7 linked regions of the Homo sapiens genome follow. The protein of the gene in region 1 purifies or fractionates together with the protein of each later gene. This does not show direct contact. Each region holds a gene or a part of one and is shown on either strand. Other genes may lie near its edges.

Evidence for each region.
Region 2: the proteins of ALX3 (region 1) and UBN2 purify together in Homo sapiens (affinity purification with mass spectrometry; 2 studies listed by BioGRID and IntAct, with this or other methods). This does not show direct contact.
Region 3: the proteins of ALX3 (region 1) and ARK2N purify together in Homo sapiens (affinity purification with mass spectrometry; 2 studies listed by BioGRID and IntAct, with this or other methods). This does not show direct contact.
Region 4: the proteins of ALX3 (region 1) and FTO purify together in Homo sapiens (affinity purification with mass spectrometry; 2 studies listed by BioGRID and IntAct, with this or other methods). This does not show direct contact.
Region 5: the proteins of ALX3 (region 1) and IKBIP purify together in Homo sapiens (affinity purification with mass spectrometry; 2 studies listed by BioGRID and IntAct, with this or other methods). This does not show direct contact.
Region 6: the proteins of ALX3 (region 1) and P3H2 purify together in Homo sapiens (affinity purification with mass spectrometry; 2 studies listed by BioGRID and IntAct, with this or other methods). This does not show direct contact.
Region 7: the proteins of ALX3 (region 1) and ENO2 purify together in Homo sapiens (affinity purification with mass spectrometry; one large-scale study listed by BioGRID and IntAct). This does not show direct contact.

What each region holds. Positions count from the first base shown.
Region 1 is NC_000001.11:110,067,261-110,072,278, forward strand, and holds the start of ALX3 (homeobox protein aristaless-like 3), read right to left. Parts: upstream 3,413-5,018; 5' UTR 3,353-3,412; coding exon 3,076-3,352; intron 1-3,075. UniProt on the Homo sapiens protein: Transcriptional regulator with a possible role in patterning of mesoderm during development.
Region 2 is NC_000007.14:139,229,615-139,234,508, reverse strand, and holds the start of UBN2 (ubinuclein-2), read right to left. Parts: upstream 3,273-4,894; 5' UTR 3,025-3,272; coding exon 2,557-3,024; intron 2,089-2,556; exon of another isoform or gene 2,052-2,088; intron 1-2,051.
Region 3 is NC_000018.10:46,180,124-46,184,422, forward strand, and holds part of ARK2N (protein ARK2N), read left to right. Parts: intron 1-4,299. UniProt on the Homo sapiens protein: AMPK substrate important for exercise capacity and skeletal muscle function.
Region 4 is NC_000016.10:53,710,489-53,714,787, forward strand, and holds part of FTO (alpha-ketoglutarate-dependent dioxygenase FTO), read left to right. Parts: intron 1-4,299.
Region 5 is NC_000012.12:98,634,328-98,638,626, forward strand, and holds part of IKBIP (inhibitor of nuclear factor kappa-B kinase-interacting protein), read right to left. Parts: intron 87-4,299; coding exon 1-86. UniProt on the Homo sapiens protein: Target of p53/TP53 with pro-apoptotic function.
Region 6 is NC_000003.12:190,113,940-190,118,238, reverse strand, and holds part of P3H2 (prolyl 3-hydroxylase 2 isoform a precursor), read left to right. Parts: intron 1-4,299. UniProt on the Homo sapiens protein: Prolyl 3-hydroxylase that catalyzes the post-translational formation of 3-hydroxyproline on collagens. Contributes to proline 3-hydroxylation of collagen COL4A1 and COL1A1 in tendons, the eye sclera and in the eye lens capsule.
Region 7 is NC_000012.12:6,917,259-6,921,366, reverse strand, and holds part of ENO2 (gamma-enolase), read right to left. Parts: intron 3,787-4,108; coding exon 3,653-3,786; intron 3,428-3,652; coding exon 3,205-3,427; intron 1,802-3,204; coding exon 1,604-1,801; intron 1-1,603. UniProt on the Homo sapiens protein: Has neurotrophic and neuroprotective properties on a broad spectrum of central nervous system (CNS) neurons. Binds, in a calcium-dependent manner, to cultured neocortical neurons and promotes cell survival.

The sequences.
Region 1 (5,018 bases):
GCTGCTCTGCTGAGCACGGGGCACATCTGAGGTGTGTATGGATTGTGCAGAGGAGTCACTGCACCTGATCCGGACACTAGGTGGTTAAGGCGGGGTACTCATGTTGGAGACAGCCTGAGACAACGCTGGGGTGTCTTCTGCCTGCATAACCGCAGGGCCACAGCAGCAGCTGTTGGGCGTGAAAGCCAGGAGCCTTTTAACGTAGTAAAGGAGCTCTCTGTCCCTGACCCAGCTCTCAGGCCTGCCGTACCCTGAGCACCCCTCACCCGGAGGAGTGCCAGAGCCCCTACCAGCGGCTGCTTCTAAGCCACTGTGCAGCCAGGAAGCAGCGCCGCAGCAGGCCCGAGTGCTCCACTGTCCCCACAGAAGGCATCCATTGAGACCGCGGGACCAGCCTTGGCTTTCACATTTCGCTGCAGCCTTGTCCCGCGCCGCACTGTTTCCTCCGGCCACTGTGGGGTCACTAAGCGACCTGCAGAACTCGCTGAGGCCCAGGCTCCTGCAGCTCCCGCCGAAGACTCAAAGCCAGAGTGGACATAAACGCCGTGGGCAGGACCCCGGTGAGGCCTCGGTGCCCTTCTTGGGGGTTCTCAGCGTTGGCCCAGAAGCCTCAGCCCGGGTCTAAGAACTTGGGACTCTCCTCGACTTTGGCGATCGGCCGGGTCATCCGGCTCAGGGCCTCAGCGGCAGCGGGCAAAACTCTAGTAGGAGTCTCTTGCCGAGGGCGTGTTTCGACGTCAGAGCCAAACTCGGGACAGACTAGCCAAGCGCGGACGGCGCGAGAGTGGCTGGCAGCGCCAGCACGCAGCCTGGGTTCAGAGCAAGGCTGGGCGCTCTCAGCAAAGGGCGGCCTGGGGCTGCGCGGGCGGCGGACTGCAGGCGGGAGAAGAGCGAGGTGCGCCAGGCTCTGGGGCGCGCAACTGCCCAGCCTCGTGAAAGATCGCGCCGCAGATGGGGCGCAGCTGCGCGCTCACTCGTGTGGACTGGAAACGCTCCGAGCCGGTTATTTTAAAAACCGGGAAATAAGGCGGGTTCCCTCTTCGCCCGCCACTTCCCACCAAGTAGGCTGTGCGGCCCTGGGGGCTGACTGTCCTCAAGCAGCCAGGCTCCACCGCGCGCCGCGCTGCGCCGAGGTCCGCTCTGCCGCAGGGACGCTGGCAGCCCGTTGAACACCGGCAAGAGCGCCAGAGGCTAGCGGCCGCCAGGATCTCTACCAGGCTCTGCTCGCACCCGCCTGCCTCCCTTTCGTTTGGCCTGTCCTCCGTTCAACTGAAATCGTTAATTTTCTTACCCCCTTGTTCTCATTTTGATATATTCTACGCTTTAAACATGCTCCGTTTTCTTTTGTTTAGTCTGCTCCCTCCCTCTTTGTCCTTTCCCCCTTCTCTAGTTATCCGTTTCGTTCGATCTTGCTCCTGCTTTTTTTATTCGTTCGTTCCTCATTTATTCATTTTAGTTCATCCCAGCTCGCCGACTGCCATTTACCCTCTCGTTCTCGCCGCGCTCTCCGTTGTTTTGTTCAATTTCCCTTCCCCTTTTCTTGGTTGTCGCTCGCTTTCTTTGGTTTTCTTTCTCGGTATTTCGTTGTCAAGGCCACCCTTGCCGTCGGATCCCGGGGTGCTGGGTTTCTCCCGGCCGCTCGTTCCGCACCAGCGCTCTCTGCAGTTCGCGCGGCACCGGTGTGGTCCGGGGGCCCGAGCTGTCGGTGCCGGATGCGGCGCGCCTAGCAGGGACGCGGGCCTGGGGGGGTGGCTCCTGCCCGACGCGGAGCGCTGAGCCAGGCCGGGTACCTGTCTCTGGCGGTGCTCACCGCACTGCGCGGCCTCTGCCGTCTGGCTGGGATCAGAGGAGCCAGGCCAACTGCTTCTCATTAAGTCCCAACTGTGGTTTTTATCAGGAAAGCCTCTTTCAAAGGGCACAGACACGAAGCTCCGCGGACTCGTTCATTTCCTCCGTTGACCCACACACACCTCCCCGCCCTCCCCTACACATTCCCACCGCCCCGGCTGGGCGAAAGCCGGAGATGCCCGGCCACTCCGTGGAGGCCCGCGAGGCGCCAGCCGGGCGGCGGCAGGGGGTTGAGGCGGATCTTGGAGGATCCAGTTCTGGGCCTAGGCTGCGGGATATGGCAGCGCAGATAAGGTGGGTGCAGTGCGGAAGCCGAGACGCCTTACAGGTCATAGGGTGCGGCGGACGGCCGCAGAGCTGCCGATCAGCCTGCCAGGCCCCTGCCTTCAGGCGCATTCTCGGATGCCGGCGCGGTCCAGCCGGCCTTAGCACAGGGCACCGGCCCGTGAGCCCGCGGCGCCAGGGGGTTAGGCTGCCCAGGGCTGCTCCTGACTGCCCAGCGGTGATGATCCAGCGCGGGGAAGCCAAGACTGCCAGAAGGGCGGCTATCATAGTGCATAACGGCAGGGAGGCCAGCTTAGTATGAGAAATAAGAATACAGTTATTCCGTCTTGAGGACAGCCCTGGCATTGCACGACCAGTCGCGGCCAGACTGTGCCAGTCTGCCGCACAGGCAGCACCCTTCCTGTGAAGGCTAGGCCCGGGGAGGAGAGACGGGCCAAGACCAGGCCGCAGTCCCCAGCCGACCCCGATTTGACCACTCTAGGTTGAGGCCCAGCCTCAGGGCCCTCAAAGGGCGCCAGACACAAAAGCCGCGCTTCTTCGTCAGGTCTCAGTGTGGCTCCACAGCCCTCGGCCGGGTCTGGGCTTCAGGGTAGGTGGCAGTTCCAGTCCAACTTCGGCAGAGCATGCTCTCTCCTTCCCAGGTCCAACTGCTTTCGGGCCCCGACTGGACTCCGGGCCGTCGCCACTGCACCTTCCCTCGACCTCCCGCCTTCCATTCCCGCCGCCGAGGAACGGTGGTTCACCCTCCCGCCCCACACTGGCCTTTGCCTGGCCCGGGCCAGCGCCAACCCGGCTTCCGTGGAAGCCGTGGCGAAAGGCGAGAGGGGCAAAAAGTTGAGAAATAGGCGAGCGGGAGAGATAAGCAGGAAGGCCCGGGTGGGCCCGGGTAAGGAAGAAGAAGAGAGGGTCGGGCTGCGCGCTACGCCCCGCGCCGCGCGTTACCTTCCGCGGGGCCCTCGTAGAAGTGGCCGCCGTTGAGGGCCGGGCCGGGCCCGAGGTCCTGCAGGTACTTGGCGGGCGGCTTGGCCGGCTCTGGGAGGTAGGGCTCCAGGGGCCCGCAGGCCGGAAAGCGGGTCAGCCGCGGGCCGCGGGGCGGCGCGGGGTGCAGGTGAGGCGCAGCGGCGGGGGTTCCCTGCGGGCCCGGAGGCTCGTCCCCCGAGGCCACATAGGGGCCGGGTGCAGGCCCCACGCGGAAAGGCGCGCAGTGCTCGGGGTCCATGCCGGCTCAGGGCGCACAGGCCTCCGGGGCTCCGGGGCTCGCGCTGCCCGCGCCGCCTGTGAGCGCCCGCCAAGGGGGAGGGACCTGGGCGCGGGGGCGCGGAGCCCCCGGGAGCGGCGCGCGCCGCGGGGGGCGGGGGGCGGGGGGCAGGGGAGGGGGCCGCGCCTCTGACTTAATGCTGGAACCATCCACGTCACGTGTGGCCCCGTGCGGGTTAACCCCTCGGAGCCCGGGAACCCCCTCCCCCCATTCACCCAGAGCCCAGTCCCAGGCAGCTCAGGAGAGGATGAAGCAGCTTCCTCTCTAGGGCAGGATCCCTTTGTCTACCCATCCAGGTGAGTCTCTTGCTCAGAGCAGCACCCGTGGTCCTGATATCCAGCCTAGAGGCACTTGCCCCTAGAGGGGTGAGGCCGTGTGGGCATCCCCCCCAAACACTTTTGGGCCTGGACTCTGGACATCAGCCTGGGATGAGGGCCTGGGCGGGCAGACAGGCAGGCCTTAGGCTGCAGTTTTACTTAGGTCTCCGCTAGGAGCTGGACAAAATGTTGCCTCAGCAAAAAACACCTCCCTTAGAGATCTCTTGTTTCTCACAGTGAAAGGAGCTATTGGGAGTGTTGTGTGGAAGCAGATCTAAGCTGGGAATGGGGTGCTGGGGAGCTTGGACCTGGACACTATCATTAATTAGCTATGGTTCCTTGCGCCAATCATTAGTGTCCTCATCTGACTGTGGAGGTCGGGCCAAGCCAACCCTGGGTCTTTCTATGTATTTGAGGTGTGTTTCAGAAGTAGAGACAGGGCCAGAGCAGACAGGGAGACTCCCATGGGCAGCTCAGGACTGAACAGTGTCCTGCAGGGGCAGCCTTTGGAACAGGTGGAGGATGAGCAGAAGGGCTGGTGTTTCCTCTGGCAGCAGCTTGGAGTGAATGCGTTTCAGTGGGCAGATGACCCAAGTGTCTGGGGACCCACTGGAGAGACTGTCTGCAGCTCGGACCTCAGGGCTGTGCTCCCCCAGGCCTGACGATTCAGAAGGGATGAGGGTAGAACTGCATCTTCTAAGAGCTGAGTCTCCCCAACCAAAAGGAGACAGGATTAGAGCAGTAGCTTAGAATTTCAGAAAAGAGAAATAACCACCACCCTACCTAAGATCTGGGGAGAAATACCCAAGGACCCGAGGACCCTGCTCACTTCCCATGGATTGAGGAGCCCGTGGGGCTGCGTTAAACTGTTTTTATTATCAATGCCCCCGGAGACTAGCAAGAGAGGTGGGGAGTCAAACATCATTTGTATTTCATTTGAATTCTCAATTTTTAAAGGAATCCAAGAGGCCTGGTGTGAACACCTCCCTCTTCCGCTGGGGGCTTAGAAGGGGTTTCTTGGCTCCTCAGCCAGAGTTGGGCTGTAAATCAAGACCAAACAGGAACCAGAAGCCTTGCATCTCACAAGGAGTCATTAAGCCGTTATTAAACATACCATAACTTCTCTGAAGACTTATTGGTTTCAACACCACCTTGGAGGCATTATGGCCATTAGGGCCCCTAATCACGGAATGCAGACTGGCCAGAGAGATGGGAGCACCTGGGGCTGGTATTTCTAGTCAAGAGGGAGGCTCGGCTTGAAATTAAGCTTCCCTTCTGGCCTCACCAGAGGGATCCTTTCTCCAGGATCT
Region 2 (4,894 bases), on another chromosome or scaffold:
AGCTAACCTGTGGTTTTGTTTTTCCTATTTTCCCAACATAAATTATTTAATTGTGCTTTCCTCATTAATACAAATAGAGCATAGAAAAATTTCTGATTATGTTCCAGTAAATCAGGGTTTTACTGTTCATTTAGTATTTAAGAAGGGAACTGATTTAAATGCACCCACATGAATGGTATCCATATGTAACACACCTTTTGTTGTTTGTTTTTTTTTAATAGCCCCACATCTACCAATTTCAGCATCTGGAGCTAAAATCTTATTTAGTGATAGATGGCTATTTCAAAAATGTGGAGCCCTTCCTTTTCTAATTCTTCTAATTTTGGGAACCACCAACTTTCCAGACCAATTCTAATGTTCGCATTTTGCTTTTTGATGGTCTCTCTTCTAGGATTTCCTTTCATGAAACCATGACAATTTTACTTAAACATATGTTTTCTATGCTTTCTTGCATAATAAGGATATACACTGGCAGCAATCACAGGAAAATGTGGCAAATCTTTGTTGCAAAGGTGATTATATACAATGGATTTTGTTTTGTTCAGAGGTATATGAAAAAAATAGAAGGTTGATATACGAGATAATTGGGCCAATAGACACCTATACTGTTAATAAGTATACAGAAAAATTAAATGGAATTTTTCCTCTTTCTCCTATTGCATGAAAGTAGTAGTTCTGGTGTTATCAAGTTAACAAAGCTAGGGTGTCAAACCTTTTTCTTTTTATAATTAAATGATACACATTATTAATTTGCCATCGTGTGAATATTACAGCATAAACAGAGACATAATAAAGGTCTTTGTATTTCTACTGCGACTTACATTTTACGTCATTTTGGCAGAATCCTCTAAACTATATGAGTTAATTTTAAGAAATTTTGTTTTACTAACAAATTGTATCACTATGGAAAGAAGTACTAATAAAATTACATACATTTGTAAAGTGAGGATAATAGTTTTTACCTCGTGGAGTTCTGTTGGACTACTAGAAAAACCATGTGCAGTGCTTAGAACTGTGTCTAGCACACAGTAAGAACCAGTAAATGTCGTTATTGCTATGTATTTTTATCCAAAGATAATGCTTTTCTCCTGTAATTTATGAAAATTACAAAAACTGCAAACCAACTTAGATTAGCAGCTCAAATACAATGTTTGAAAAATGCTCCAATCCAATATTTTTAATATTCTTTTGGGAAAAAAGTGACCTCAGATTTATAAAGAAGGGGCATTCAAGTGAGTCTGACGAGCAAAATGTTAGGTGGAAGTGACCAAAATGATCTCTACCTTTAAACAATTCATTTTGGTTGAAAACATTTTGTAATGATTTGACCACATAACATTTCTAAATAATGATCAAAACATTAGCTGGCCATGAAGTAAACAAAACCTAGTGAAATTGTTCAACATGATACTTTGTGACTAAGCAGTCAGTCATTTTGACCATAAAGGTAGTTGAAGATGAAAACAAAACAAGGGACTTCTGGAGTCCATTAGACTCAAGCTAAAGCAAAACCTAATAACGGGTATAATTGCTAAGCAACAGAGAAAACTGTTCTCTTTCCTTACTGTTAATCTATCATTTCCTTTTCTAACTTACTTCTGAAGATCCACCAACCCACAACAATAAAAATTACAATTACGAACATAACCCCTATCCTTTCTCCATTGTTCACCTCTTACATCAAAAGCATACCTATATATTTTCAATTATTTTAAAAAATTCAAAGCTGACATTTTTTTCATCATCCTCCGAAAATTACAAAGGCTGAATACAATATCCTTCTATAAACTAATGATAGTACACTTAAATAATATGACGGGTAGGTGTCAAATAAAACAGGAGACACCTTCCCATTCAATTACAATATGAACGAACTCCACAAAAAAGGAAAGCTAAAAAGGTTTTCCAATACCAACACGAGAGAAAAATTAGTAACCAGATTAACTAACCCACTTCTCCATTCCTAAAGTGGGATCCTTAGTCTCTGAAAACCTTTAATTATTCTTAAATTCCCTTCGATTAAGAAAAATATCACAGGCACGCAAGCACACCTCAGCAGCCACGGCGCCCAGCAAAACAAACAGTGATGAGGATGAGGATGATACGAGAGGGGTTACACAATCTCTGCTTCAGACTGGGGGGCGTGTCCCCCAAGGTTTTCTCTTCCTTTCTACTGGAACGACAGCTGTAGCGCCACAGGGAGAACCCAGCCACACGGCCTGCAGGGCCCCAGGATTTTGTGTGGGGAGCAGAAAGGAAAGAAGGAAAATCTGAGGTTCCGAAAGGTGCACAAGAAAACGAGCTCGGCGCGGCGTTGGGAGCGAGTGCCGGGGGTTTGGGGATTCGGCGCAGCCGGGTGAGAGCCTCGGCCACCCTGGGGAGTGGAGAAAGCAGCGCTCACCGCCCCGTCCACCCGCTCGGCCCCGGCCCCCCGCACCCCACCCTCGGGGCGACCCGGACGCGCTCGGTGGGCGTCCCAAGGTGCAAACCAGCTGGGGAAGGCGGCGGGTCCTGAGGCTCCCGGGGTCTGGGGCAGGAGGGAAGAATCTTCTGTACCCGTTGTTCTCCGCACAGCAGCAGCTCCGGGTAACTGAACTCCACGCAGCTCTCGTCGGTGGGGTCCTTAAGCACCAGCTCCAGGCGCACCGTCTCCCTCGGCGGCCGCGGCGGCTGCTCAGCCCGGGAAGCCGACTCCCGCGGCGGGGGCGGCTGCAAGGGCAGCGGCGGGAACGGCGGCGGCGGCTCGGGCCGCGGGGGCTCCCGCTGCAGCGACATGGGCGGCTCGGCGCGGCTGACCTCGCGCTGGGGGAGCGGCTTCTCCCGCGACGGGGGCTGCGCGTCCGAGCGGGGGGCAGGCTCCCGCGGGGCCGGCGGCTCCGCCCGGGCCGGCTCGCGGTACGGCTGCGGCTCCAGCCGGGGGGGCTCGCGGGGGTACTCGGGCTCACGCTCGGGCCCCGGGTACTCGGCCTCGCGCCGCCGCACCGGTGACAAGCTAATGAACGCTACTCTGCGCGGCTCCGCCATCCCCACTGTTCTGGCCCTCCGCTTTTGCTCGAGCCGGCGCTCGCTTCTACGGCGCGCTGCGTGCCTGCCCGCCCTTCCTCTTGCTCTCTGTCGCTTTTCTTCCCTCCACCACCCTCAGCCGTCTCCGCCGGCGCCACGGTGAGTGCGGACCGTGTCCCCTTCCCCGCTACTACGTTCTGATGGGCTTCACCGCCATCGCCAGGGTCGCCGCGGCCGCCATGTTGGATCCCCCACATAAATAGAAGCAGGCCGCTGAGCGGGCGCATGCGCACAGAGGAGACGCTCGCGTCCACTGTCGTGGCTGTTGCTCAGTTTTCCTCTTTTCCTCCCAACAGTCTGGAGTCCAGACAGGTCGGCGGAAGTGACGACATGGCTCGGCCTGTTTCCGTGGAAACGGAGACGCCGTCTGCACCCTTCCTCAAAGGGAGGGTTCTGGGGTTTCCCGAGCAGTTTACTATTCGCACCCGGAAACCAGAGGCGCTCCAGGAGCTTCCCGGGGCTAGCATCGGGATGGGACTGAGACCGACCTAGCCATTGGCGCCGGGTCTCCCGTGCTGGGTTCAAGGGAATTGGGGTTGTTAGCTGATTATTCAAGGCGGACTCTGGGCAAGGGTAGAGAGACGCGCCAGCCGTTGTGCCTGCCCGCCCTGTGTCCCCGTAGCCTTAAGTATCGAGGGAAAAAAGGAAGTGCCCAGCTTCAGCCAGACTAGCCCCAGCGGCTTCCCTCCCGAAAGCGCAGGCCTCCCCTTCCTCGACCTACTCCGGTTTCCCTCGCCCGGCCGCAGTGGGCGTTGCGTGGGGCAGGGTCATTAAATGTTCAATAACGCTTTGCAGTTGGAAAATTAACAAGCAGATGAGGAGTTCTGGGCTCATTCAGAAGGCCTAAACTGCTGAAATCATAGAAAACTTCTTAAGAGGGTTTAGTGGTATTTCAGGAAACGTACTGTTTATGAGAATGCTAAAGGACCCATTTCAGGATGGGGAAGGAATTGATTGGGCACGCCCCATAGGCTCACTTGTAATTAATTAATTGGAAGTCGGGTTTAAAAGGATAAGAATTACTGGCCATTTTAATCCATTGAATAAAAAGTAAATTTGAGGGCTCGCCCTTCACATCCTGAAGGGAATCCAAGCCTTCTGTTAATTGCATTAACTATTGAAAGCTCTTTTATTAAGTCAGTGTGACGTCATTGACAAATTCTGAGAGGGTTCCGTTTTTTCCTCTCCTGTTATTACTTTCCCTACTTGGACGAAGATGGTGATGAAATCTATGATTCCAAAGGTCTCTCCCAGCTCTAAAACCCTATCTTTTCTACTCGGCGCCATGTTTTACCTACATTATCTCCTTCCCTATTGCTCCTTTTCTGATTCTGAATTCGGGTCTCATTTTTAGATTGCCTTAGTGATACTTAAATGACCTTTCTGCCTTCAGTCTCTGTTCCCACCAGTCTTGAGACGGGGTCATATTAATGTCTCTAAAAGAGTTTTTATTATATCGTTCTCTGTTCTGGCTGCAACTTACCTACAAACTGAGTTCTATGTATGTATACTCATATTCAATATCCTCCACAATTTAGCTCAGAGACTGCAAACTGGTGGTCTGTGGGCCAAATCCTTCTACAGGTGTGTTACTTATCCAACATTATCTTCTAACTTCTCACCCACTGAGTTTTCCAACTTTTTGATCCATAACCCACAGTAAGACATTTTACACTGTAACCTAGAATATACACCCATATATACATAACACATATGTGCATATGTGAAATATAAGTTTCACAATACTTACCTACTGCTTAGGATAAAGTAAAAGCAACAGACGCAACAGAGTTAATTTAATATAAAATATTTTATAATACAGTGTAGAAAA
Region 3 (4,299 bases), on another chromosome or scaffold:
TTAAGTTTTGTTTCTGTTCTCTTTCATGTCTGTTCAAAATAAGGGACCTCATTCCTCTTTGCTCAGACTCTGCCACTTAATAGGTAGATGGTGTAAATTCCTAAATTATTAACTTGACTTTAAATAATTTTAAAACCTACCTAAATGAGTATTTTCTAGTTAAGTGACAATTAATCTAAAGTGGAAATCTATCAGCAGGGACTTAATGCATATGTGGTATTTATACCTGGTTAAATTAAAAACCCATTTACTGAGCATTTACATGCCAGGTGGTAATGGGCACATAAAATAAGCAGTTTGGGGCAGGGCACGGTGGCTCACGCCTGTAATCCCAGCACTTTGGGAGGCCGAGGCGGGCGGATCACCTGAAGTTCGGAGTTTGAGACCAGCCTGACCAACTTGGAGAAACACTGTCTCTACTAAAAATACAAAATTAGTTGGGCATGGTGGCGCATGCCTGTAATCCCAGCTACCCAGGAGGCTGAGGCAGGAGAATCTCTTGAACCTGGGAGGCAGCTGTGGTGAGCCAAGATTGTGCCATTGCACTCCAGCCTGGGCAACAAGAGGGAAACTCTGTCTCAAAAAAAAAAACAACAATAAAAACAAAACAAGCAAGCAGTCTCTGCCCACAGAACTCAACCTAGTGAACCAGATGATTTCTGAGTTTCCTTCCTGCTCTAAAATGTGGAGAAGAGAAAGTAGATTATAAGGGAAAAAAGTACTGCATAACAAAACAACTGTAGTATGGAACTAGTGTTTTCCCTTATAAATTCATTTTAAATAAGGTATTAGAAAATAGCATTTTTCTTGGTATCTCTAAGCTTTAAAAGGCTGGAAACTTAAATGTCGTTTTTTGGGCTGGGCATGGTAACTCACGCCTGTAATCCCAGCACTTTGGGAAGCCGAGGCAGGTGGATCACAAGATCAGGAGTTCGAAACCAGCCTAGCCAACATGATGAAACCGTGTCTCTACTAAAAATACAAAAATCAGATGGGTGTGGTGGTGCACGCCTGTAATCCCAGCTACTTGGGAGGCTGAGGCAGGAGAATTGCTTGAATCTGGGAGGTGAAAGTTGCAGTGAGCAGGGATCATGCCATTGCACTCCAGCTCTGGGCAACAGAGCAAGACTCCCTCTCGGGAGGTGGGGGGGGAAATGTCGTTTTTTTGTAATGCCAGTTCATTTACAAAATACATTTGCTTGTAATTCAAGTTCATGTATTAAGTTCTGATTGTTGTTCAGAGAGAAACAACATTAAATCTGTTAAAACTTAGAGCAGCCATTCCTAAGAATGTATATAACCTAGAATTGTGCCAGGCATGGTGGCTTATGCCTGTAATCCCAGCACTTTGGGAGGCTGAGGCGGCGGATCATGAGGTCAGGAGATCGAGACCATCCTGGCTAACGTGGTGAAACCCCGTCTCTACTAAAAATACAAAAAATTAGCCAGACGTGGTGGCGGGCACCTGTAGTCCCAGCTACTCGGGAGGTTTGAGGCAGGAGAATGGCATGAACCCAGGAGGAGGAGCTTGCAGTGAGCCAAGATCGCGCCACTGCACTCCAGCCTGGGCGACAGAGCGAGACTCCGTCTCAAAAAAAAACAAAAAACTAGAATTGTGCTTGGGTAGTCTAGAAATTAAGTTTATTTTGATTGATTGATTGATTGATTGAGATGGGGTCTTACTATGTTGGCCAGGCTGGTCTCCAACTCCTGGGCCCAAGTGATCCTCCCATTTCAGCCTCTCATAGTGCTGGGATTACAGATGTGAGCCACTGTGCCTGGCTGAAATTAAGTTTTTATTAGCATAATTAGCATTAGAGAAACAAGATACTGACCAAAGTGACCAGTAGAAGTTATTTTTTTACTGAGTTGACTAGTTTAAAAAAATGACCTTTACAATAATGTCTGGAGTCTGCATTTTGTTAGGTGCCTTATAATTAGAGAAAGGTATTGTCGGGGATAGGGAAGTTGGGTGTGGACTAAAATTTAAGGAAAACAGGATTGTTTTTCTTTCTGTATTAAGAACAAAAACTTCATGTGGTTAAAATTTTAAGCAGTATCCTGTCTGCCTTAGTTTTAACCTAGCATAGAATCATAGCTTGTTCTTAAATCAACAGTTTAGTGTCAAGGGTTTCTTACTATTTTTCTCTGCTGAAATCAACTAAGCACTTTGCAGTGAGCCTGAAGGTGTGTATAGTGGAGAGAATTTTGGCAGCTTTTATCTTGGGACCTCAGTTCCTGGCATGTGGTTATCCATCTTTATGTGAATTGTCTTCTGAAGGAGATAGAAAATGACCAGGGCAGAAATCTTGGAGAAAATTTAGAACCTTTGTTTTAGGGCCAGGCATGGTAGCTCACACCTGTAATCTCAGCACCTTGGGAGGCAGAGTTGGGAGGGTAGCTTGAGCCCAGGAGTTTTAGACCAGCCGGGGCAACAAAGTGAAACCCTGTCTCTATTAAAAAATTATTTTTAAAAATTAAAAGAACCTCTGTTTTAAATTATTCTTGATTTACACTGATGATGCTTTTGAGTACTTTAGAGAGTCATTAGCCACAGTGCTTTTTTTTTTTTTTTTTTTTTGCATTTGATAACTTCTTTGGCTTCTTACTTGATGCTAGTTTATTCACAGCCCTGGTGCAGGTCCAGGTACATGCCAGAAGTAGTAATATCTGCAATATGAAGTGATTTGAGCAGCCATTATCACCTTTGACCTATTTATAGAGTTTATATCAGTGGAGAAAAAGTTGGCTGGCAAGCAAGCAAAGCTGATCTCTGGTGGTTGCAATCTCACAATTTATATTTAAGTTCCGGGTAGGCCAAATTCAGTGCATTATGGACAGATCCATTCAGCTGTATTAATATTAGAGTTCCCTTTCTGTACTCTAACTTTTTAGCACTCCAGTTTCCCAGTCAGCTTCACTGTTGAAGGAAAGAAAACCGAAAAACTTACCACACTAAAAAAAAAAAGGAAGAGTTCCTTAATGTAATATGATAGTCAGTGTTCAGATTTCCCTCTTATCTCATAAATGTGTCAGATCAAGAGCCAAATAAGGTCTCTGCATTGTTTTGTAATCTGTAGGTTCCCCCTCCATTTCTTTTCCCTAGCAGATTATTAGTTACAAAAGAAGTTTTCCCAGTGTGGATTTAGCAGTTACATTCCTTTGGATTTCTGTGGTGGTGGTGGTAAACGTTTTTCTCTGACCCCTGGGTTTCTAGTTAATTGGTATTAGATTTAGAAGCTTGATCAGATTGTTTCTATAATATATATTCTTTCTCTTGCTTCTTTTGCAGGGGATGAGGGGAATACTTTATAGATGGTACTTGGATCAGTAGGTGCATAATATTTGGTTCCCTGTGATGTTAGTAGCTGTTGGTGATCGTTGCCCAGTTGTGTTAATTTGTTACTCATAATTCCTTACTCTGAATGGGGCATCCTCTCTCATCAGTCCTAGTTTGAGTCTTTTATGCTTGTTTATAGCTTCTTCAAACTTTTCTTTCTTTTGAGGATTAAGGGAAGGGATGAGTTGCTGTGGAGAAAAGGGCTCTTTCTACTATATTGTATTTCTGTAAGTGTTTTTTATTTTAGTCCTAATCTTTGGTTCTTGCATTGTCTGCATTGTCTATGCTGCAGCTTCTTGGTGGGAAAACTGACTCAAAATCCCAGCAAATAATTGAAAGAAGTCCTTCAAAACCAAATTTTTAAAAAAATTTTTTTCTGAGTTAGAGTCTTGCTCTGTCGCCCAGGCTGGAGTGCAGTGGCGCGATCTCAGCTCACTGCAACCTCCGTCTCCCGGGTTCAAGCGATTCTCCTGCCTCAGCCTCCTGAGTAGCTAGGATTACAGGTGTGTGCCACCATGCCTGGCTAATTTTTGTATTTTATTTTTGAGACGGAGCCTCACAGTGTCACCCGGGCTGGTGTGCAGTGGCATGATCTCAGCTACTTGCAACCTCTGCCTCCTGGGTTCAAGCGATTTTCCTGCCTCAGCCTCCTGAGTAGCTAGGATTACAGGTGCCTACCACCACGCTTGGCTAATTTTTGGTATTTTTAGTAGAGACGGGGTTTCACTAGGTTGGCCAGGCTGGTCTCGAACTCCTGACCTCGTGATCTGCCTGCCTTGGCCTCCCAAAGTGCTGGGATTACAGGTGTAAGCCACTGCGCCCAGCAGTTTTTGTATTTTTAATAGAGACGGGGTTTCAGCATGTTGGCTAGGCTGGTCTCGAATTCCTGACCTTGTGATCTGCCTGCCTCGGCCTCCCAAAGTGCTGGGATGACAGGCGTGAGCTACTGCGCCCGGCCT
Region 4 (4,299 bases), on another chromosome or scaffold:
TCCTGACCTCGTGATTCACCTGCCTCGGCCTCCCAAAGCGTTGGGATTACAGGCGTGAGCCACCGTGCGCAGCCCAGATTTTGCATTTTTGCATGTATATTTTTGAGGAAAGATGGGGCCTCTAGAGGTCACATATTTATAATCCACATATGCCTCCTGGCTGTAGGTAAGTTTTATTTGGCCCAAACAAACTAAAAGTTGTTTCAGAATTATTTTCTAATATTTAAAAGTTGAGGGATTTCACATAAAGATCTGGGTGTCTGACTCTCTTGAAAAACTTAAGTATCTGGTAACAGTGGGCATGCATTTTCCTAACTAGAATTGAATAGTGGCTTCCCTTTTAGGTGGGAAATGTGCTTTCCATTTTGCTGTCATCCAGTTTTGCCCCTTAAGTTACAATATAGTGGTGTAGTGTGGAGCTTTAGATGCAGACTCCTGAGATTGAATTCTGCTCCCTCATTTACTTGCGCAAGCAATTTAACTTCTCTGAGCCTCCATTTCCTCATCTATCAAATAGGAGTGATATGGTTCTGGTAGGGATTGAGATATTATATAGCACATAAAACATTGCTGGCATACAGTAAAAATAAACATTGTTATCATCATCATTATCACCATCATCACCACCACCTTCACTACTGCCTATCTGACCCCAGTAGATATATATTCTGTATGTATATATATATATATGTATTCTGATCCCAGGACGTTTATTCTGTAAACTTATGTTGAGTGTCTAGTCAAGTGGATTTTCTCAAATGGGGTTCCATTAACTTATTTCCCATGCAGCCAGAATGGTACTAGTTTTGTACCACCTTTCAGAAAATTGAGAATATAGTCACTCAAACCATTTTCTGTGTTCTGTGGTTCAGATAAGGAACCTGATTAAGTGTCGAGTAGTGTACTCAGCACCAGGGTAAAGATGGCAGACACAGTCCCATGGAACTGGCTGGCTGTCCATGGAAGGTAAGTAAGTACCAACAGCAGAGTGGTGAGTTTTATCACGGGAGGACACGGTAGCAAAGAGGATCTAACATGGCCTAGTAGTCATGGAATTCCTTCCTTAGAAGATCTGTTTAAAGGTGTATCCTTATGAGAGGCCTGGGATTCCTTACGGGGTTTTTCAGAAACATTAAAACTGTTTCATTAGTCATGGAATAAAAAGCTATGGATGTTGAAATCCAAGTTAGCTTCAAAGACTCTTATGCTGGCTTAGGTTAGATAATCTTTTAAACTATTAAAAATAGAACTAGTTTATTATGGAAATGGTTATATACCTAAGAACATTTAATAATTTTGTTTGAGTAATGTACATTTTTATCAATGAAGGAAAATATCCAGAATATGTAACCTACCGTTTTAAGTAACATGATTTAAAAACTCTTCTGCTTTTGGTGATAGTTGTCTTATCAACTTTAAATGATAAGGTTTATTGAGTTATAAAAATAATAACTTGGCCAAATGCAGTGGCTTATACCTGTAATCCCAATGCTTTGTGAGGCCAAGGTGGAGGAGGCTCACTTGAGACCAGGAGTTGGAGGTTACAGTGAGCTGTGATTATGCCACTGCACTCCAGGCTGGGCAACAGAGTGAGACCCTGTCTCTAAATAATAATAACAATAACTCAACAAAAGAAAGTTTGTTATTTATGTTTTTACTGACTGGGTATTTTTACCTTATTTTATATTTCAAATTTGGCATTTTATTGAGGTCCTGAGAAGGTTCTTTTGGAGTCTACTTTTATTATGGGCCATTCTAGATTATGTCACCAGTTTATCTAAAGTGGACACTAAATATAGGACAGTTTTGGTGTTAGGCCAAAGACCAGGGGACTTGAAAAATGAAAACCTCACCTGACAGATTCTACTCTGTTTTTTTTCCTTCTTCCCGAAATCCATTATTATTTTTTGCTTAATCTCTCCTTCAATATATGGGTAAGCCTTTAATCACTGTTTCGGAGGTTTAGTTGACTTCTGTAAATAGAAGAAGAGTTAGTGTATTTGATCATAGTTTCCAAACCACTTTTAATACTGTACCTTACTTGAAAATTAACCAGCTAAACTATCGAGTAACAGTGAGTTCTTGTTGCTTTCTGTTATTTCCAGGCTGTTTCCTAACCCTCCTAGTACTGGTTTTGAAAACTAAATTAGCCATTCAAAAAAACTCTTAGACACTTTGAGCAAACAGTAGCTTCCTTGAAGATAGCATTTGTGTCTAATTCATCTTTTCATCTCTCCATTGTACCTGGCAGGATGTCTTCCACAAAGGAGACATTAATAAGTATCTGGTGAAGAAAGATTAAATGGTTGAGAGAGTCCAGCATCTGTTATGTGATATATGTGACCCTTCATAATTATGATTCTGGATCCTTGGCTGCTAATGAGATTTACTGTGGCTGAGTTTAGTGATACAGATTTTGGCATGTAGATGATAGTCTCCAAAAAAGTAGAGATCATGTTTTTTTTTTTTTTTCCGTTTTGTCATTCACCATTTTATCCCTAGCCCTTAAGATTTTGCCAGACACATGGTAGATATTCCATACTTGTCAAACAATGAATGAATGAATTCCCAAGAGCATCACTTGTTATTGGTCAGTAGACTTTCTAATAGTGAGAGATGGAACCGGAATTTGAAAGAAGTAATGGAAAATGGTTAAGTACCTTATGAATTTTAAATTAATATACCATAGGTGTGGGCATTAATTTTGAGAAACAAGACTCTTCTGTTCAACACATACTTTAGCAACTGTCAACACTTGTTTTCAAGTGTTCTCTTCCAATTTTAAAATGCCAGTTTACCTTTCAGATTTAGAGTATTTTGTTGTTGTTAGTTTATTATGGCAGTTTTCTTGCTAAAGTTATATTTAAAGTGTGACTTTCTAACTTCTAGAGGAGAGGAACTTTTGTTAAGGTGGTACTTTTGGAACCTTAATGAAAAACACACCTTAGAGAAGGTGAATTTAGAGTTCTGCTAAGCACATTCATTTACTCTTCTATTATAAACTGGTTTTGTAATATTTTATAAAATTGTCTCACTGGTTGATTTCACAATGTAAACTGGGAGGATTCTTAGGATTCCTTGGGTTGGATTAGAACAGGTTCAAGAGATGAAGATTTGTGTTGGTAGGGGCTTGTTTCCAAACGTTTGTCCTTGGCATGCTCTTTGTTAAGCCATCACATGTTTGAAAGTTAAACCTTGAATTGGTGCCATGGTTTGCATTTAAAAAAATGTATTTTATTATGGTAAGAACACAACATAAGATCTACTCTCTTACCACATTTTTAAGTGTACAATAAAGTATTGTAAACTGTAGGTACAATGTTGTATAGCAGATCTCTGGCACTGATTCATCTTGTATAATTGAAACTTTATGCCGCTTGATTAGCTCTTTCCCATCCTCCCAGCCCTGGTCATCATCTTTCTACTCTCTGATTCTATGAGTTTGACTATTAGACGTACATTTTTGTTTTTGCTATAAGCATCTGTCCTGTTGCTATGCTGATCATTTATTTACTCTGTAGTTTTGGAAATGACCTGCTTACAAGATAACCATGCCTCCCCTTATGTTAAAAAACTGCCATATGGATAAAGGGCAGTTAAGACCTTTACAACTGGTAGAAACCAAGTAGAAAATTCAGTTTGAAGGACCAAATTATGTTGCAGCTGCTCTGAGGAGGAGATTTGTTGCCAGAGCATGAGTGTTTTCATAATTGTTTGTGATCAGAAAATTCAGAGCTCTGATTTCTGCATTAGCCCTAAGTCTGCCCTTTGGCACCTTCATTTAGTGATTGGATCATTCAAGGCTGAGCCTCAAGGGCCAGCATTTCTCCAGTAATAATATAAAATGGGCTGATGTTGCAACCTTAACTCACTCTGCTGAATTGGGCATGATTAAAGTCTCAAGGCTGCATTAATATGGATTTTCTATTTCTATGTACAGCCGTCCATTATCTCACTATTTTCCAGTTTGCCATTTTTTGAAAACAAAGATGGAAAATTCTGCTGATGAAATTTTTTTTTTGTCTGTCAGCACAACAGCATTTTTTGGGCTTAAGAATATGAGAATAGCACCGGGCAAATGAATGCAAACATTACAGTTTATGTGGACTCTAGCCTGTTGTCATGTCAATCTTGTTATTTAGGTAAATAGTGTGCAATTTTTCACCAAATCAGCAGCCAATATGCTGCGAGCCATTTTTGTTTTAGTTACATTATTGGCTGGTAACACTATTAATGAGACAATAATTGGGAAATAGTAGTCATTGTTCTCATAAAACACGATCCTTGTGTTGGAACCAC
Region 5 (4,299 bases), on another chromosome or scaffold:
GTTGTTGGAATTCATTGGTTTCTAGTTTCAGTAACTGGTATTGGTTTTCCACCTTTGCAAATTTTTCTGACTGCTGAAATACAAACCTGGAAAAGAAAAGAAAAATCACTATTCTCCAATTCATATCCATTTAAATCCGAATTTCAAAGGAGAATTATACCCACTTCTGTTAAGAACAACATAAATTCTGGTATGGGTAGCTGTAGGTTTTTTTTTTTTTTTTTTCACACAGGGTCTCACTCTGTCACCCAGGCTGGAATGCAGTGTCACAATCATAGCTCACTGCAGCCTTGAACTCCTGGGCTCAAGTGATCCTCTTACTTCAACCTCCCAAATAGCTAGGACTGTCCATCTCGCTATGTTGCCAAAGGTGGTCTTTAGCCTTTTTTTTTTTTTTTTTGAGATGGAGTCTCACTCTGTCGCCCAGGCTGGAGTGCAGTGGCGCGATCTAGGCTCACTGCAAGCTCCGCCTCCTGGGTTCACGCTATTCTCCTGCCTCAGCCTCCCGAGTAGCTACGACTACAGGCGCCTGCCACCACGCCTGGCTAATTTTTTGTATTTTTAGTAAAGACGGGGTTTCACTGTGTTAGCCAGGATGCTCTCGATCTCCTGACCTTGTGATCCACCTGCCTTGGCCTCCCAAAGTGCTGGGATTACAGGCGTGAGCCACCACGCCCGGTATTTTTTTTTTTTTTTAGATGGAGTTTTGCTCTTGTTGCCCAGGCTGGAGTGCAATGGCACGATCTCGGTTCACTGCAACCTTTGCCTCCTGGGTTCAAGCGATTCTCCTCCTCAGCCTCCCAAGTAGCTGGGATTAAAGGCACCTGCCACCACGCCCCACCAATTTTTTAATATTTTTAGTAGAGATGGGGTTTCACCATGTTGGCTAGGCTGGTTTTGAACTCCTGACCAGTGATCTGCCCGCCTTGGCCTCCCAAAGTGCTAGGATTACAGGCATGAGCCACTGTGCCCAGCCCCAAGGTGGTCTTGAATTCCTGGCCTCAAGTGATCCTCCCCTCAGCCTCCCAAAGCGCTGGGATTACAAGTGTGGGTCAACATGTCCAGCCTAGATGCAGCTTTTATCAGTTTCTTTTGACAGATTTTCATGTGGTAGGTACTGGTTTAACTCATGCAAAGATGAGTAAAGCACTGCCCTTGTTCACAATTCACAGCCCACCAAATAAGATGGTGTGATATCTGTAATAGATGCATGCACAAGAAATATTTTAGAGGAGGACAAAGTGAAAAATTTAGAACAAGATCTTTGATCTCTACTGTTTTTCACAAGGCCATGATTGGGTAATATCTAGAAAATAGGTGTTTTTATGCTGAAATGTAGGCGAAACAAGAGTCGTCTATAAAAAGTATTTTAAAACTGAAATGTAGAAGAGTTGACTGATAAAAAGCAGTGGAGTAGAAGAGAGAAGTGATAGTAATTAGAAGTTGCAAAATAGCAGGAGGTGTGAAAAGAGGTATGAAAATAGAAAAAAGCCATTGCCAAAGTGACAATAGATCACAATCAGTGCAGAGTGTATAAACTGCACAATTGGTTATACTCAGTGATGTGACTCGTATAGGTGTACTTGAGATGTCACTCTAAAATTGGAGTTTATTCTTCATTATGGGTGGAAGCCCAAAAAGCTATCTCAATCTTCAAAACAACAAATCAACATCTGTTTATACAGGATTTGAAATGAGCAAGCATAAAAGAATTGTCTTGGATCCAATACCATTTTGTCTACTTTAACTCAATTCTTTAGGCTCAGAAAAAAACACTTGAAATTCTTTGCATATTGAGTCATCAAAACGCAATGGAGCAGAACCATAAGTACCTGCCTAAACACAGTCCTGAGACAAGTGGTTCAAAAGCTTTGCTACATATTGTAATAACCTGGCAGCTTTAACAAATCTGATGCCTGGGTCTCACAAAGATTCTGATTTAATTGGCTTGGGATGTGGCTTGGATGTTGGAAACTCAACAGCTTCTCAGGTAATCTAAGTGCACAGCCAAACTTAGAACCATACTGACTGACCATGTTTTGTGAAATTCATTTCCACTGAAAGGCAATCATTTAAAGATCCCAAGGATTAATGGAGAGGTGAAAGACTTTTCTGAGTAAATGCAGTTATCTGAACTTTGTGCATCCTTGCAAAAGTGGTAATGCTTTGAATTCATAAATGGCATCATTAGGCTAACCGTAGCTACAAAACTGTCCAAAGCTAAATTAGACAAATGTTTACAATACTGGAGGAAATACATTTCTTTTGATGATGCTGGCTAATTTCTATTATACGGGATCCCAGGTTACATTATTAGCACAGATTGACTTTTCTCCTGTGTTTAAATTAATAGGAACCTTTAAAGCTTCTGGTTATTAGAAAACACTATTATCCTAATTCTCTGAGATGGAAGGGTGAACATAATTCTTTTTTCATTGGCTGTTTCATTTCTGGCTTTTAGGATTTTTTTTTTTTCCCCCAGAGTATTGGATATCTAAGACCAGCAGATAGAGACCTTATTAAGAAAGAGACCACCCTAAAGAAATAAGAGTTGCCCTCCTCACGCCTTCCTGTCCCTCCCTGCCAGGGGGGAAAAAAAAAAAGTAAAAGAAGAAACACAGTTCATTTCAGGGACTAGTTTTATTATCCAATACTCCACCATAGATCTATACTATAGATTAGCGAGTTTATTCAGAATGAAATCATTATTATAAGAGACTTTCGTATGAAGGTTGATTCATTACAAAAAATACATTAATGAACTTTCTCAGAACTTCTTTTCAAATTCAAGCTTTAAACACAACCTGTGTCATGTTAGTGGAAATATCATCTCTGATAATTAGTAGTTTTTTTTGATTAGCCTCTTACTAAAATAAAAAAAAATTCATCCTTGCTACATGTGAACGGTGCATATAAGAAAAAAGTACAAAGCTGACTCAGCACTAGTGATGAAAAAAATGAAGTGATATGTGCTGTGCTGCGTTAAAATATATTTTATTTTTCCCTTATTTGTGCCAGACACTATTCTAAGTACTTGATAAATATTAATTCATTTAACATTAAAGAAGATGATTGATTTTTCTTTCTTTTTGTTTTTTTTGAGATGGAGTCTCACTCTGTCACCAGGCTGGAGTGCAGTGGCACGATTTTGGCTTACTGCAACCTCTGCCTCCCGAGTTCAAGTGATTCTCTTGCCTCAGCCTCCCGAGTAGCTGGGACTACAGGCGTGTGCCAACACACCCAGCTAATTTTTGTATTTTTAGTAGAGATGGGGTTTCACCATGTTGGCCAGAATGGTCTCGATCTCTTGACCTCATGTTCCGCCTGCCTCAGCCTCCCAAAGTGCTGGGATTACAGGCGTGAGCCACCGCGCCCGGCTTTTTTCTTTCTTTCCTTTTTTTGAGACAGGGTCTCGCTCTGCTGCCTAGGCTGGAGTGCAGTGGCATGATCTTGGCTAACTGCAACCTCCACCTCCCAGGTTCAAGTGATTACAGGCGTGAGCCACCGCACCCAGCCTAGATGACTGATTTTCTAGAAGTCAAGAAAATATGCTGAGAAAGCTGCTTCAGATCTGAAAAACTAAGCTTTCAAACTGGCATCCATGTTAGGGTATAAGGTCCTTTATTTCCTTTTTATGAGTCAGGGGCATATTCTAGTGAGAGCAGTTCCCAGTCTTCCCATTTAGATGAGAGTGAAAAACAAGCAATTAGGGTCTGCTAAAGGGTATACCTTCAAGTAGAAGGAAGAAAAGAACTATAAGTAATTCTGGACTTGGGGATTTCTATTTCTAGGATCTTGGCCTTTTGTTGGGGATTAATATCGAATGGAGGCAACGAATCATACTGATTAGGTGGGTGACTGGACTGCCTTAGCTCTGCCATTTACTAAGCTGTATAACCACTTTGGGCAAGTTAAATAACTTTGATGTTTCCTCATCTGTGAAGTGGGGATAATACCTTATTTTAATCTTATTTTTTAAAGACAAGATCTCACTCTATTTCCCAGGCTGGAGTGCAGTGGTGTGATCATGGCTCACTGTAGCCTCCCAGGCCCAATCCATCCTACCCCCTCAGCCTCCTGAGTAGCTGGGAACACAGGCGTGTGCCATAATGCCTGGCTAATTTTTTATAGAGATGGGGGTCTTCCTATGTTGCCCAGTCTTGTCTTGAACTCCTGGGCTCAAGTGATCCTCCTGCCTTGGCCTCCCAAACTGTTGGGATTATAGGTGTGAGCCAGAGCACCCAGCCAATACTTCATAGGGTTGTAGTTTGTTTTTCGACAAGGTCTCATTCTGTTACC
Region 6 (4,299 bases), on another chromosome or scaffold:
AACAAATAACCATGAGGTAACTCTCAATATGTGGGTTTCCCTGGTTCTGGAATTCTGCTTGCTTCACTGTTAATGTCAGCATTTGTCAGTCATTTCCCCTCCGGTTCCCTGGTTGGAGGTCAAAGAAGGTGAAGCCATAGGTTTAACATACCTCAAATTTTTGTGGTGAATTGATTACAGGAACAAGTCACACTCTGTAAGTGAATTACTGGGTGTTGTCTGATGAATTAATGAAGTTTAAGAAGTTCTTTCAAAGATCCGTGGCTTCGTGTGTTCATTTCAGTTCTACCAGCAATATTTCTGAGAGCAGAACAAGTCTTGCGTCTTCTCCCTACTTCTCTTCTCTGGCAGTTTCTTGGATCTACATAATTGATAATCTCTTAAGAAGAAAATATTTTATCCTTTTGGAAATTCGTTTTTGAAAGTTGGAGTTTGTGAACCTCTAAAACTGCATCATGGTTTTTCTCTCCCCTTCACCCCCCTCCCCCAGCCCCCAAGAAAGCCCCAGTTTTAGCCTTTGCTTGGCTTCCTTGGAATTTCACTTATGAATACGCACACACACCATCTTTTGAGACTGAAAAAAAAAAAAAAAACCTCTCAAATAATAAAAGAACATCCTGGAGCTCTGACAGGTCTGGATTCTAGGGCATTGATTCCCTGATGTTAGGATGAGGAACTCCCTGCCATGTGACTGGATATGGTCATGGTGCCCTGTATTGTTTAATTGCTTTTGACATCAGTGATCCAGTTTGCACTTAAAAGGATAATCCTGGACTAGATCAAATTCAGTGAGGGAGGACTGGAATGCTTCATAAAGCTAAGAAAGTACAATTATTCTCAGCTAAGAGATTTTCCAACTATAGAAGCTCTCAGGAGATGTTACTGCTCCCCCAAATCCTGCTGAGTGGGCCTCCGATGAAAGCAGATTATTTGTGCTGGTGTGTTGGAGGGGAAGAAGGATGAAAAATCATGAAATCTGAGACCCAATGAGTTCAATTTCTTGGTTCACAGATGAGGAAAGGGATGTTTCTAAATGTTTAATAGAAAGGTAAAGAGGTTTGCTCAGTGTCACATATTTAGTGGCATACCAAATGATCTGTTGAAATGAGCACAGGGCTGGGAGTCAGGAGTCTGGATTCTTCCAATAACTGATTCCGATAGCTTTCCTGTGCCCACTGGCCTGTAGGTTCACATCAGGTCCCAGAGAATGCTGCATACCCCAGGGCTATCCTTATGCCAGATTTGGACAGCTCCAGGGATGAGTATATCCTTGTCTTGCAGGGTAACAGATACTCACTACATCTTTCATGAGCCTTGCTCTGTTGAATTTTTTCAAGGCCTGGCATGTTGGGAATTTGCCTAGACAGCTATGAGGCAGTAGTTTCACGTGGCTCCTAGCCATACTTTTTGTTTAAAGGCAGTGTGAGACTCTTCAAACTTTTGATTTTTATCATTTAAGATTGTTAGAGATAACCCATGATTCATAGCCTAAGACGTAATATATAGCTTTTATCATTGCATTCTCTGCTCAGAAACCTTCAGTGGACTTCCTCTTGCTACCATATAAAGCTCAAATAGGTTACCATAGCATCCACAGCCTGGCTCCCTCTCAACCTTCCCAGTCCTATCTTCCCCAACTCTGCCGCCTTCCAGCCAAAGGTAACAATGAGTGCTTTGTCTTATGCCTGACACTTCTGCATCTCTTGGCCTTGTTTAGTCTTTCTTGGGAGGTGTAGAGGCTTTAGAATGGATAGATATGGGATTAATTTTTAGTTTTCCCAGTCTCTATCTGTGTGACTGTCAGCAAATTCCATAAGATTTTTCAGCTTTAGTTCTCCCATCTGCAAAATGGGGAAATAATGGGGCCTACGTTCCTATTTTAAGTTAAGTTTAAGAGATGAGTGATGTAAAGCACCCAGCATAGGGCCTGATTCTCAGTAACCATTGGAGATACATTTATTCTTTTTATTAGTTAAAATAGTAGACCTTTCCTCTTCCTCTTCTACATGTTCAAATCATAACTATCCTAACATATAAATGCACCTATTTCTGTGAGTTCTTCCTTCACTCCATCTACAACTCCCAAAAGTATACCATTTCTCCATTTTCTGAATTCCCACAGTAACAATTTTGTTCCTCTTCTGTCATTTTTCATTTTTAACCTTGTTTTGGAAAAAGTGATAATTTCGTTATTACTTAGGTGAGCTTCCTGAAATCAAGAACTGTCTTAGTGATTCTTGTATCTCCTAAAGCAGAGGTTCCCAGATTTGGATGATTACTAAATGGATAATTATTATTAATCATCAGGGGCTTTAAAATGTGATTCAAAATTACAGATACAGGCTCAGTAGGTCTGAGTTGGGTGATTCACAACCATCTTCCCTCCAAATACCTAAAACAGGGGGTGGTTCAGTGTATGTTTGTTGAATGAATAATAACTTGGTTCCATGCATATGAAATGTTGTTGAGGAAGATTTCTGCATGGTGGCAGGAGGTTTTCTCACTTTAGTTGTTTGGCTTCCTGGCTGGTCAGTTGGAAGAGAACGTTTCAGGACTGTTGACTGCCTGACTTCTCACTATTTTCTACTTACAAGTTCTGGCTAATGTTGCAAACTTTCACCCCCTTTCCCACCCCACTTTTTCTTCTTTAGTTCTTATTACTTAAAACTATACTTCAAAATACCCTTGACATATTGTACCTGTTTCATGCACAATTCTGGAATTTAAACAAACATGAGGGATACTTTTCTTTCTTATCTGTGTCCTTTATAATCAGGAATGGTTTGACAGTGTCTGGTTTTTTTTTTTTTTCTCCCACTTTTCCCAACCATTTAAAAAAAGGAAAAAAAAATGCTGTTTATTTATTCATTTTTCTACTCAAAACAAGCTTGCCCCTGCTTGTTTTGTTTCTGTGTTGTTGCTTTGTTCCATTTGACCTTTGTTTTTCTTCTTAGGATTAAAAGGAAGGCGAAAAATAAATACACAATTACATTAGGCAATTCTGTTTTGGTCCTAGAGTCCTCTCTTGAAACTTCTTGTATCTTGACCATAATCTATTTGATTAGGATTAAAAGGAAGGGGAAAAATAAAGACACAATTACATTAGACAATTCTATTTTGGTCCTAGAGTCCTCTTGGAACTTCCTTTATCTTGACCATAATCTATTTGATTAGTGGTTCCTAGGGGAAAACAAAGTAAACTCTAGGAATTTCCTCACTCTTACTCTGTTTTATCAACTGCTATCTCTTTCTATAATGCATGCCTTAAAATGAAATTGAAAACCCAGACAAGTGCATCATATAGATCTTATTAGTTTAGAATAAAAATGCTTTCCTGAATTTCATATTTAAATTATTTTTACCTATTTGTAGAATATGTATATTTTATCTGCAAATTATTTCAAATAGAAGATTGATTTCATATCTTCTTGAAATAGCTGTTATGAAATTGTTCTAATGGTTATTTCCTCAAAAGATGAAGCTTTTCCCCCCTCTCTTTAACAACTGAACACTTTTTTGTGCTTAAACCATCAAAACTTACAGGTCACCATCTTTATGTCTCACTCCTTAGGAAGAAAACCTGAGAGATTGTTCATCTAGCTAGATTTTAGGTCCCGTGTGCTAAGGAATTAGAATCACAATTGTTCCTCCTTGGGATTGTCCCATATCTGAAAGCCTGGTCAGCTCCTTACCAGTCATCTATTGCCCGTATAAGTGATAAGTGCCACAGAGGCTTAAAATTTAATTAGATGAGGCTGGGCATGGTGGTTCAAGCCTGTAATCCCAGCACTTTGGGAGGCCGAGGTGGGCGTATCACGAGGTCAGGAGATCGAGACCATCCTGGCTAACACGGTGAAACCCCGTCTCTACTAAAAATACAAAAAGAAATTAGGCGGGCGTGGTGGCAGGCGCCTGTAGTCCCAGCTACTCGGGAGGCTGAGGCAGGAGAATGGCGTGAACCCGGGAGGCGGAGCTTGCAGTGAGCCGAGATGGCGCCACCGCACTCCAGCCTGGGCGACAGAGCAAGACTCCGCCTCAAAAAAAAAAAATAATAATAATAATTAGATGAGGGCAGCAATTGCTTGCAAGTATTCTCCCATGGTTAGTCAGCTTGGTTAATCAGGGATTCCTTCCTGGCCATTTTTTTTTTTTTTTTTTTGAGACGGAGTCTCACTCTGTCGCCCAGGCTGGAGTGTGGTGGCGACATCTCGGCTCACTGCAAGCTCCGCCTCCCGGGTTCACGCCATTCTCCTGCCTCAGCCTCCCGAGTAGCTGGGACTACAGGCGCCCGCCTCCACG
Region 7 (4,108 bases), on another chromosome or scaffold:
GGCTGGAGTGCAGTGGCACAATCTCAGCTCACTGCAACCTCCACCTCCCCAATCAAGTGATCCTGCCACCTCAGCCTCCTGAGTAGCAGGGACTTTAGGTGTGTGGCACCACACTCAGCTAATTTTTAAAATTTTTGTAGAGATGAGGTCTCACTGTATTGCCAGGCCAGTCTCGAACTCCTGGATTCAAGCAGTCCTCCTGCCTCGGCTTCCCAAAGTAATGGGATTACAGGCATGAGCCACCACGCCTGGCTCCTGATTCTTATTTCATAAAACCTTACATGGAGAGGCCAGGCACAGTGGCTCATGCCTGTAATCCCAGCACTTTGGGATACTGAGGTGAACGGATCACTTGAGGATAGGAGTTCCCTGGCTAACATAGTAAAACCCCATCTCTACTAAAAATACAAAAATTAGCCAGGCATGGTGGTGCACGCCTGTAATCCCAGCTACTTGGGAGGCTAAGAGAATCGTGCAGTGAGCAGAGATCTCACGCCACTTCCATAGGCTGGGCACAGTGGCTCATGCCTGTAATCCCAGCACTTTGGGAGGCCGAGGCATGCAGATCACTTGAGCCCAGTAGTTTGAGACCAGCCATGAGCAACATGGCTAAACCCTGTCTCTACAAAAAAAAAAAAAAAAAAAAAAAGTTAATTAAAAGCAAACCAGCCAGGCGTGGTGGCTCACGCCTGTAATCCCAGCACTTTGGGAGACCAAGGTGGATAGATTACCTGAGGTCAGGAGTTGGAGACCAGCCTGACCAACATGGAGAAACCCCTGTCTCTACTAAAAATACAAAATTAGCCAGGCATGGTGGCACATGCCTGTAATCCCAGCTATTCGGGAGGCTGAGGCAGAAGAATCGCTTGAATCCGGGAGGTGGAGGTTGTGGTGAGCCGAGATGGCGCCATTGCACTCCAGCCTGGGCAAGAAGAGTCAAACTCTGTCTCAAAAAAAAAAAACAAAACAAAAAAAACAACCCCACCCCCCCCCCAAAAAAAATCTTCCAGTAACAAGGGTTCACAACCTAGCTTTGCATTTTCCTGTTCTCACTGCCAGCAAGCCCTTCCTCATTGCTAATCCAAATCCTTAATTCTGCAATTATGTTGATTTTCTTTCGCTCTGTGTCAGGAAGATGGCGACCAACTGCCTCCATCCTGAGATAAAGGCCCTGGGCAGACTTGCAGAAGCTAATTCAGTCCCCCTCAGCCTTCTTTCTACTCACACATCAGTCCCAGCTCCATTCAGCATCCACAATTTCATCAATCAAAGATACTGAAATGTTCTAGTTCTCTGCTAGATCCAGTCACACTCATATCATCCCTGGTTCCTTCCAGAGCCTTCCCCATGACCCCAGTAGTTTTCAGAACCCATGACTTTAATCAGGATCTGAGACAGAACAGATTGGTCACGGGTACCTGCATTTTTACACTACATACAAAGCCCAGTCTTTGCAGGTGGCTCCTGCACCCTCTCCCTGGTTCTCAGGTTCTTCTTAGGACACCCCCACCTGGTGCCTGAGTCAGCACCCCATAAGGTCCAGAGTTGCTGGGACACGTCCCTGCCTGCCCCCAGACCTCCCCCTCACACCACTTCCTCTCACCAGGATAGTCCCTGACAAAGTCCTGGTAGAGTGCCCCCAGCTGGTCCCCAGTGATGTATCGGGAAGGATCAGTGGGAGACTTGAAGTCCAAGTCATATTTGCCATCACGATAAAACTCTGAGGCAGCAACATCCATGCCAATAACGATCTTTTCCGTGTAGCCAGCCTTGTCGATGGCTTCCTTCACCAGCTCCAAGGCTGGGGACAGAATACAGTGAGATTATAGTACAAGCAGGAGGGATGGGCAAGGAGGAGGAGGGAAAGAAAAGACATTCAGGGCAGAGGTGGAGGGCTGTTCCTGAGGGAAGTGTGGCGGGGATGCTGTTGGGGTTATCCCCAGGTCTGGGAGGAGAGGCCATCTTCTAGGAACACAGAGGAATGGAATTCTCTTAATAATACTTACTATACTTTCATTGGTATCATGTCATCTAAGCATTTTATATATATTTCATTTAAGCCTCACACTACCATGAGCTAGATTCTGTTATTATTTCCAGAGAGAAGTAAGAAAGTTCACCAGCAGTAACTCCACAAGTCAAGGTTCAAATAAATCCAGGTTATTTGGCCCCAGAACCTTAACTCTTAACCACTACCTATATTCTTTCCATTCCCTATACAGTTTCCCCCAAGGCACAGAAAAATTAGGGATTCTAGAGGCCTAGGAGGTTGGGACGGGGACAGGACAGATTTCGAATGGATGGGATGAATCCAACAGTCATCCAGACCATCTCCCAGTATTCCCAAGGGCTCCAGTGACAACTTTTTTTTTTTTTTTTTTTTTTGAGACGGAGTCTCGCTCTGTTGCCCAGGCTGGAGTGCAGTGGCATGATCTCGGCTCACCACAACCTCCGCCTCCCGGGTACAAGCGATCCTCCTGCCTCAGCCCCGCTAGTATCTGTGATTACAGGCACACGCCACCATGCCCGGCTAATTTTTGTATTTTTAGTAGAGACGGGGTTTCACCTTGTTGGCCAGGCTGGTCTCAAACTCCTGACCTCAGGTGATCCACCCGCCTCAGCCTCCCAAAGTGCTGGGATTACAGGTGTGAGCCACCGCGCCCGGCCTTCCAGTGGCAACTTAACAGATGCTAACACATCTGGCTAGGCAGGTAAAAGACTGTCCCCTGGCCAGGCGTGGTGGCTCACGCTTGTAATCCCAGCACTTTGGGAGGCCGAGGCGGGCCGATCACAAGGTCAGGAGTTCGAGACCACAGTGAAACCCTGTCTCTACTAAAAAATACAAAAAATTAGCCGGGCGTGGTGGCGGGCGCCTGTAGTCCCAGCTACTCGGGAGGCTGAGGCAGGAGAATGGCGTGAACCCGGGAGGCGGAGCTTGCAGTGAGCTGAGATCGAGCCACTGCACTCCAGCCTGGGTGACAGAGCAAGACTCCGTCTCAAAAAAAAAAAAAAATACTGTCCCCCTAGGTCTGCATGTGAATTTGGCAGGCTCTCTGCAATCCACTCTAAGAACTGGTACCTTTTGGAGTTTGCAGAGTCCTAGGACCCTCCACGCCTACTCAGGACTTGGTGAACTGTGTCACCCTTTCTGATGTCCCACAATAGGGTAAGACTTAGAGCTGGGAGTGGGGCTCCTGGCCTCACCTTCACTGTTCTCCAGGATATTGGGGGCAAAGCCACCTTCATCCCCCACATTGGTGGCATCCTTGCCGTATTTGTCCTTGATGACTCCCTTGAGTGTATGGTAGACCTCTGCACCTAGTCGCATGGCATCCCGAAAGCTCTCAGCTCCCACTGGGAGGATCATGAACTCCTGCATGGCCAGCTTGTTGCCAGCATGAGAGCCACCATTGATCACGTTGAAGGCCTGGGGAGCCACAGAAAGACAGAAGGGTCAAAGAGCCCCTCCCTGCCCGCCCCAGGAGTGTTAACCCAAGATCCCAAACTTCCCCCAGCTTTCCGGACTAAGTCTCACGTCCCCATCCTTCCTCTTTACCTCCCTCAATTCACTTTCCTCCCATCATTCCTCATGAGTTGCATGCTCCCTCCCCCACCCGCCCCTGGGAGAGCCGCAGGCTGGCTTATTGCTCACCGGCACAGGCAGGATGAGGTCTGAGTTCCCGGCCAGCTGAGCAATGTGGCGATACAGGGGCAGTTCCCGCTCAGCTGCCCCTGCCTTACACACGGCCAGAGACACACCCAGGATGGCATTGGCCCCAAACTTGGCTAGGAGATTATAGAGGAAGGTGCTGAGCACAATGTCCCCTTCTCCTTTCTAGCTCCTGCCTCCATCTGTAGTCTCCAAAAGGAGCCAGTAAAGGAGACCCCCTCCTCCCTCCCCACCCCTGCCCCAGCAACACCTCATCCATGCTCTCTTGAAAACAGCAGGGAGAGGAATGGGTGGGGAGGAGGAGATTGGAAACGGCAGAGAGCCACACCTCTTTCTAAATATCCCTGAGACCACAGACTCTCTCAGGCCATCCCCCTCCTCTGTATGCTGCAAAGAAGGTCTTCCTTCTGCCTACTGTCGGTCCTTCCCTCTGCAGCT